2 separate regions of the Homo sapiens genome follow, and region 1 is linked to region 2. Evidence: fine-mapped expression QTL. A gene starts in region 2. The other region holds a variant in brackets. All regions are shown on one strand. Distances are from middle to middle.

Evidence for each region.
Region 1: its variant is fine-mapped to the expression of RPGRIP1 in lung (TOPMed, PIP above 0.99).

Annotation. Positions count from the first base shown.
Region 1 is chr14:21,318,083-21,322,082 of GRCh38, reverse strand. RPGRIP1 (RPGR interacting protein 1) reads right to left here. Exons shown (of 25, transcript NM_020366.4): 12 at 1,906-2,066; 13 at 681-824; 14 at 79-229. Among named protein-coding and RNA genes, the nearest start is that of RPGRIP1, 40 kb to the right of the region's middle. The variant A/CA (reference allele first, on the strand shown) is at 1,736.
Region 2 is chr14:21,278,191-21,282,717 of GRCh38, reverse strand. It overlaps RPGRIP1 (RPGR interacting protein 1), which reads right to left and starts at 2,635. Exons shown (of 25, transcript NM_020366.4): 1 at 2,559-2,635.

The DNA.
Region 1 (4,000 bases), 40 kb before region 2:
GACAAGTACACAGAGTGGAACACAGGCGTTAGCTGTGGAAGGGTCCCGAAGTGAGGAGAACAAAGGACTAAGACTTGCCAGATGTTGGAAGGTCATGGCTTCTTAAAATACCTTCCAGCTGCTTGATACGGTTATTCTTGAGGTCTAGTAGTCGAGTCAACCTCTCCAGCTTTTCTTTGTGATCTCTATTATCATTGTCAGCTTTTGTCATCATTGCCTCCAGTTCCTCCTGAAACAAAATAATGTCTGAACTTTTCTATCTCAGTGGCCTAAAACCAAAGAGCATAAAAAATGTGGCACTGGCTAGGTCAAGAAGACTGCTATCCTTAGCTGGGCAGGTTCACCCACTAGAAGAAGGTTTGATTTCCTTGCAGACCCCTCCAAGACTAGTTGTGCTATCATTGAGGTAGGGTGGTTCCTAGGACTGGCAAAATTTGAACCCAGAAGCCTTACGCTTGCCATTGGCATGGGCTGGCCCCATCACTGGCTCCTAGTGCCAAGGTGCCGTGGGCATGTGTGAGTCCTCAAGTTCTTCAAAGGACAGCCATTGTGTGTTTGCTCAGGATAGCACATCACCTGGTATCAGCCCTGGAAACTTAGGTCTTGCTTCATTCCCAGTCCTGTGAGTGGTTCCCACGTTCCTGTTATCCATCCCCTTCCTGTACCATCTTTCCTTGCACCTGATAACACACGTTGATTTTGCGCTGCAGAATAAGCATGTCCCTGGTCTTTTCTAGTTCCAATGTGGTCTCTGCGTGTGATACTTGCAACTCATTTAGCACCTGGGACAGTTTCTTTTCTTCTTGGTTTTTGGGTTCACTTGGCTGTAGAGGGAAACGCATTGGTAAAAGGGAGTATAAATATGACAGGTAAAGTAATAATGATTCTCCATAAAACAGTTGTTGGTAGTAGTAAAATGCCAGCAGCAGAAACTACTCCAAAATGTAAACAAGGACCTGTATGACTTCACAAGTGCTCTTTCCCCTAGTTCTCATGTTCAGTAGCAGCAGTGAAGGGAGATGATACAGCCACTAATGGCTGTTTGCTCTTCCACAGATCTTTTCAAGTCCTCATCTGAAAAAGATTCTAAATTTTATGAGCTGCAAAGAGTGGAAGAAATGGGTGGAGCTCATGAAGTTCTCTACGCTCTGCCTTCTCACAGTTTTCCAAAAAGTGTCCTCAAGCAGGGCACAGTGGCACGTGCCTGTAATCCCAGCACTTTGGGAGGCTGAGTTGGGCGGATCACCAGAGGTCAGGAGTTCGAGACCAGCCTGGCCAAAATGGCGAAACCCTGTCTCTACTAAAAATACAAAAAATTAGCCGGCTGTGGTGGCAAGCACCTGTAATCCCAGCTACTCGGGAGGCTGAGGAAGGAGAATTGCTTAAACCTGGGAGGCAAAGACTGTAGTGAGCCGAGATCGCGCCATTGCACTCCAGCCTGGGAAACAAGAGCAAAACTCCATCTCAAAAAAAAAAAAAAAAAAAAAGAGTGGGCCGGGCGCGGTGGCTTACGCCTGTAATCCCAGCACTTTGGGAGGCCGAGGTGGGCGGATCACGAGGTCAGGAGATCGAGACCATCCTGGCTAACACGGTGAAACCCCGTCTCTACTAAAAATACAAAAAAATTAACCGGGCGAGGTGGCGGGTGCCTGTAGTCCCAGCTACTCGGAAGGCTGAGGCAGGAGAACGGCGTGAACCCCAGGGGGCGGAGCCTGCAGTGAGCCGAGATCGCGCC[A/CA]CTGCACTCCAGCCTGGGCGACAGCGAGACTCTGTCTCAAAAAAAAAAAGAGTGTCCTCAGTCAGGACAAAATATTATTTAGTTAGTTTTCTAATCTCATCATCTTCCCTAGAGATATTTGCCAGAGATCTCTCTGCAGAGTGGACTAGTTTGTTTAAAGAGGCTCTTACCTCGATCTGAGTGTTCTCTTGCAATACAGCTGGGTGAGTGGCTGGTTCAGATTGCCTGTCAGGAGGTTGGGAAATTGTGGCTGCATTTTGGAGGAGCTCTACTTCCTGTTTATGCTTCTGAAGTATGTTGGTGACTTCAAGCTTCAGATCCTCATTTTGGGCTGGGGAAAAATAATCCAGAAATGTGAAATTCTGTAGTTATTTATCACCATGGTCAGAGTTGGATCAAGTGTGAATTTAATCTTCCCACTAAGGTTTAATTAATGTTATAAATTTGAGAAGCAATTCTCTATTATTTCTACAGAGGAGGACTCTAGCTTATTGACTCAGTAAACTGAGGTGATACTACTTGCACTCCGAAAACAAAAGACACCTGCAGAATGGTAGAGTGGAAAGTGGAATAACAATAACAACACAAAACAGAAAGGGAATCACTTGACTAGGGTAATCCAAACTTTTTGACAGCAGCATCGAAACCAGTATCTCACCAACTCCACCCCCACTCCATTCTGACTTCTAGGTTACTAGCTCTCTGTGGCACCCATCTTCACACCCACCCTGGCCTGGATGGAGGATGGGCATTTCTGTGTTCCAATGTGTGTGTGTGTGTTTTTCTCTTTAGACAGTCTTACTCCATCACTCAGGATGGAGTGCAGTGGTGCGATCTTGGCTCCCTGCAACCTATGCCTCCAGGGTTCAACGATTCTTGTGCCTCAGCCTCCTGAGTAGCTGGTATTACAGGCGCACGACACTACGACTGGCTAATTTTCGTGTTTTTAGTAAAGATGGGGTTTCACCATGTTGGCCAGGCTGGTCTGAAACTCCTGGCCTCATGTGATCTGCTGGCCTCGGCCTCCCAATGTGCTGGGATTACAGGCATGAGCCACCACACCAGGCTGTGTGTGTGTTTTTCAGGGAATAAAGGTAATCGGTGTTTAGTGAGCAGATCATTTCCATCATGCATTAGAGAAGGGATTAAATTAGATTGCCCTGAAGGTCCTTACAAGACTTCATTTGTGCTTCAAACATACTAATTGGCATGTGCTCCTAAACATGGTTCTTGCCTCTATTTTTCTTGATTTCACACATTTCTTTTCCTTCCGTTCCCTATTTGAATACACTAAAACTTGATGAGATATAAATTTGATAAAACTAAATATTAAGGTCCAGGCTAGGAAAAAGTAGTAAGATGAAGGTCTTTTTGACAGTATTTAAAAATGTTCCAAATACCTATCTCCTGAGATCCAAGAGTTAAGACGGGGGTGAACTGGCAGTGGTAACCAAGAATAGTAATTTGCTACTCAATTTCAAGAATTGGATGGCAAAAAAAAAAAAAAGTATTCCAGTTACCTCTAAAATGATGAGAAGGATAAAAGACAAAGAAATTCACTTTCAATACTTTCAGCCAGGTGTAGTGGCTTTCACCTGTAATCCCAGCACTTTGGGAGGCTGAGGCGGGTGGATCACTTGAGGTTAGTTTCAGACCAGCCTGGCCAACATAGTGAACCCTCGTCTCTACTAAAATATACAAAAAATTAGTTGGGTGTGGTGGTGGGCACCTGCAATCCCAGCAACTCGGGAGGCTGAGGCAGGAGAATCTCTTGAACCTGGGAGGCAGAGGTTGAAGTGAGCCCAGATCGCATCACTGTACTCCAGCCTGGGTGACAGAGTGAGACTCTCTCAGAAACAAAACCAAACCAAACCAAACAAAAGAAAACTTTCAATAAACTGAACGTTTAAAAAACATAATAAATTAAAAACTGGCAGGTCGGGCACAGTGGCGCACGCCTGTAATCCCAGCACTTTGGGAAGCTGAGGCTGGTGGATCATCTGAGGTCAGGAGTTCACGACCAGCCTAACTAACATGGTAAAACCCCATCTCTACTAAATACAAAAAAAAAAAAATAGCCAGGCGTGGTAGTGCATGCTTGTAATCCGAGCTACTTGGGAGGCTGAGATAGGAGAATCGCTTGTACCTGGGAGGTGAAGGTTGCAGTGAGCTGAAATCGTGCCATTGCACTCGAGCCTGAGCAACAAGAGCGAAACTCCACCTCAAAAACAAACAAACAAACAAACAAACAAAAACTAGCATCTT
Region 2 (4,527 bases):
GAATGGCGTGAACCTGGGAGGCGGAGCTTGCTGTGAGCCGAGATCACGCCACTGCACTCCAGCCTGGGAGACAGAGCGAGACTCTGTCTCAAAAAAAAAAAAAAAAAAAAAATGGAATGTAGATTCTAAAAGGGTTTATCAATTGTTTTGAACTCAACAGGATGAAAGACTGAAGAAACTTCCACCCGGCGTGGTGGCTCACGCCTGTAATCCCAGCACTATGGGAGGCTGAGGCGGGCTGATCATGAGGTCAGGAGATCGAGACCATCCTGGTCAACATAGTGAAACCCCGTCTCTACTAAAATACAAAAAAATTAGCCAGGCATGGTGGTGCGTGCCTGTAGTCCCAGGTACTCAGGAGGCTGAGGCAGGGGAATTGCTTGAACCTGGGAGGCAGAGATTGCAGTGAGGTGAGATCACGCCACTGCACTCCAGCCGGGTGACAGAGCAAGACTCCGTCTTAAAAAAAAAAAAATTTCCTTGCAGTGATATTCAGAATTGCAGTGCACTTGGACAAGTATAGGTTAGTGAGGGTGAAGAACCCTTTACTAGTGATAGATGGATAGACGTATAAAGCCAGCTTGATGACATCAGCAATTAAAATTTTCTTTTCCTCTTTTTTCGAGACAGAGTATCACATTGTTGCCTGGGCTGGAGTGCAATGTTGCAATCTCAGTTTACTGCAACCTCCGCTTCCCGGGTTCAAGCGATTCTCCTGTCTCAGCCTCCAGAGTAGCTGGGATTACAGGCACCTGCCACCATGCCCAGCTAATTTTTTGTATTTTTTAGTAGAGACAAGATTTCACAATTTTGGCCAGGCTGGTCTCGAACTCCGGACCTTGGGATCCGCCAGCCTCGGTCTCCCAACGTGCTGGGATTACAGGCATGAGCCACCCTGCCCAGACTTCTTTTTTTTCTTTTTTACACTCTGTATCACTGGGCAAGCATTTAAAATTTTGTAGCCAGTTCCCCTTACTCTGATTATTATTATTATTATTATTATTATTATTATTTATTTTTTTTTTTTTTGAGACAAGGTCTCACTCTGTTGCCCAGGCTGGAGTACAGCGGTATGCTCTCGCCTCACTGCAACCTCTGCCTCCAGGGTTCAAGCAATTCTCATGTCTCAGCCCCCCAGGCAGCTGCAATTACAGGCGCAAGCCGCCACGCCCAGCTAATTTTTCTATTCTTAGTAGAGACAGGGTTTTGCCATGTTGGCCAGACTGGTCTTGAACTCCTGATCTCAAGTGATCCACCCGCCTCAGCCTCCCAAAATGCTGAGATTACAGGTGTGAGCCAACACGCCTGGGCCAAGAGTAGATTTTTAAGTGTTCTCATCAAACACAAAAAATTGATGAGCATATGAGGTAATACATATTTTAATTAGCCCAAGATTGGGCAGGTGTGGTGGCTCACGCCCGTAATCCCAGCACTTTGGGAGGCCAAGGCGGGCAGATCACAAGATCAAGAGATCAAGACCATCCTGGCCGTGGCCAACATGGTAAAACCCTGTCTCTACTAAAAATGCAAAAATTAGCTGGGCATGGTGGTGCGCACCTGTAGTCCCAGCTACTCGGGAGGTTGAGGCAGGAGAATTGTTTGAACCCAGGAGGCAGAGGTTGCAGTGAGCCGAGATTGAGCCACTGCACTCCAGCCTCACGAGAGAGAGAGATTCTGTCTCAAAAAAAAAAAAAAGAAAAGCCCAAGGTAGCCATTTTCCACTCTCTCTATATATATATTTCAAAGCAACAAATTTTACACAATAAATATATACAATTTCAAATTGTCAATTAAAAATTAATTAATTTGAAAAGGAGTTTTATTCATTCTGCAGATAGTGGATACATTTCTGAGCAAAAGAGCAATATAATTAGAGCTATGGAAGAGCATTAGGAAGATTCATCTACTATTAGTGATTTGGAAATTGGGGAGAGAACAGTGTTAAGAGGATATTGCTATAGTTCAGGCAAGAAGTCTTGAACTAGGGAAGGAGGGGGGTGGGGGATGGAAGAATAGGATGGATCATGAAGACACTGAGGAAGGAGAATCAAAAGATGTGACAACTGGTTGGACGTGAGATAGAGTTAAGAGGGTGACAGGATTAAAGATGACTTGGTAATGTTGTGCTGGATGCCTGGGAGACTGGTGGTACAATAGAAAATGAATAAACCAGGCCAGGCGCGGTGGCTCATGCCAGTAATCCCAGCACTTTGGGAGGCCGAGGCGGGTGAATCACCTGAGGTCAGGAGTTCAAGACCAGCCTGGCAAACATGGTGAAACCCCGTCTCTACTAAAAACACAAAAATTAGCCGGGCAATGGTGGCGCATGCCTGTAGTCCCCAGCTACTTGGGAGGCTGAGGCAGGAGAATCGCTTGAACCTGGGAGGCAGAGGTTGCAGTGAGCAGAGATAGTGCCGGTGCACTCCAGCCTGGGCGACAGAGTAAGACTCTGTCTCAAAAAAAAAAAAAAAAAAAAGAATAAACTTATTTCATTCTTCTCAAAAACACCCCTAGGGAAGACATAGGAAACTATAAATATGCATCAGATAGAAACTTACAGTTCTTGCTTGCTCCAGATAGCTGTCGCTAATTCTTTTCTCTCAATGTTCTGGTGTCCTTTAGTACTCTAGGTTCCAATAAGCTTGTCCTTCTGGCTTGTTAAAAGAGGAGCTAATCCAGTTCTGTTTAGCTTTTAAGATGTTAACTCTTTGTAGATCAGAGTGTGTGAAGGCTGTGCTTTTTCTCTATGCATGTTTGACTTGGAGAAAGAGCAGCTTAAAGGGTCCTTAACAGATCCACTTCTCAACTAAAACTAAAGCTGAGAACACATTTGCGGGATTTGAGATTAAAAGAAATTTGTTGGTATTCAGAGGATGATCTTTAAATCTTTTATTTATTTATTTATTTATTTTGAGACAGAGTTTCACTCTTGTTGCCCAGGCTGGAGTGCAATGGCGCGATCTCGGCTCACCGCAACCTCTGCCTCCCAGGTTCAAGCAATTCTCCTGCCTCAGCCTCCCGAGTAGCTGGGATTACAGGCATGCACCACCACAGCCAGCTCACTTTGTATTTTTAGTAGAGATGGAGTTTCTCAATGTTGAGGCTGGTCTCGAACTCCTGACCTCAGGTGATCTGCCCGCCTTGGCCTCCCAAAGTGCTGGGATTACAGGCTTGAGCCACCGCGCCCGGCCGATATTCTTTAAATCTTTATCTGAAGGGCAACAACAGTGGGAGTTGTTCTGAAGCCCTGAGATCCCTTTGAAGAGAACAAACACTGCACCGTTGGTGGGATCAACATGCCTATTCAGTCCACATGTGCCAGTGCTTTCGAGTAAGAGAATGTATATCTTCCATTTCACCGTGACCACCGTTTTGAAACCAAACTTTGGGATGTAATTATGAAGCAATAGGATTTGATATAAGAAAATTAAATGTTCTTAAAAATTCTGCAAGGCTGGTCACTGCATTCATATTATATATTAAGTGGAATACGGTCTCAATTGTTACATAAAATCCTCTTTATTTATTTATTTATTTTGAGATGCAGTTTCGCTCTTGTTACCTAGGCAGGAGTGCAATGGTGCGATCTCGGCTCACTGCAACCTCTGCCTCCCGGGTTCAAGCAATTCTCCTGCCTCAGCCTCCTGAGTAGCTGGGATTACAGGCATGCGCCACCACGCCCAGCTAATTTTGTATTTTTACTAGAGACAAGGTTTCTCCATGTTGGTCAGGCTGGTCTCGAACTCCCGACCTCAGGTGATCCACCTACCTTGGCCTCCCAAAGTGCTGGGATTACAGGCCTGAGCCACCACGACTGGCCTAAATCCTCTCTTTAATGCACTGAATGGGTGCATTGAGAAAGCTCCATTCTGGTTATTGGCATGAGGTTCGGGGATTTCCAGGAGGATGAACACATAGTTAATGGGCCCCATGTGACTTCCTCTAAATCCCATGAAATAATAAAATAAAATAAAATAAAATAAAGCTAGGGAGACAATTAGGAAGTAGAGAAAGTATCCAGGACACATACATTTCCCAGTGAAGAGAGGAAAATTCAATATAATATTTTACCAGGTTTAAATGACAGATTTATAAAATTTAAAAGCTGGGCTTTTATGCACTTAAGGTTGCTTCTTGCCCAAGCTATTTCTTGATAAATCTGGGATTTTCTGTCCTTTTTTAAGATGCTCTAGCCAGAGACAGTGCAGGACAAAATTAATTTTGAAGTAAGCCAAGTTTGTGTTTGATAATCGTGTTCTCTTTTCTGAACCTCTGACTTTTGTTAATTTTTTTTTTTTTTTTTTTTTGAGACGGAGTTTTGCTCTTGTTGCCCAGGCTGGTGTGCAATGGCACAATCTTGGCTCACTGCAACCTCTGCCTCCCGGGTTCAAGAGATTCTCCTGCCTCAGTCTCCCTAGTGGCTGGGATTACAGGCACCCGCCACCACACCCAGCTAATTTTTTGTATTTTTAGTAGAGATGAGGTTTCACTATGTTGGCCTGGCTGGTCTTGACCTCCTGACCTCAG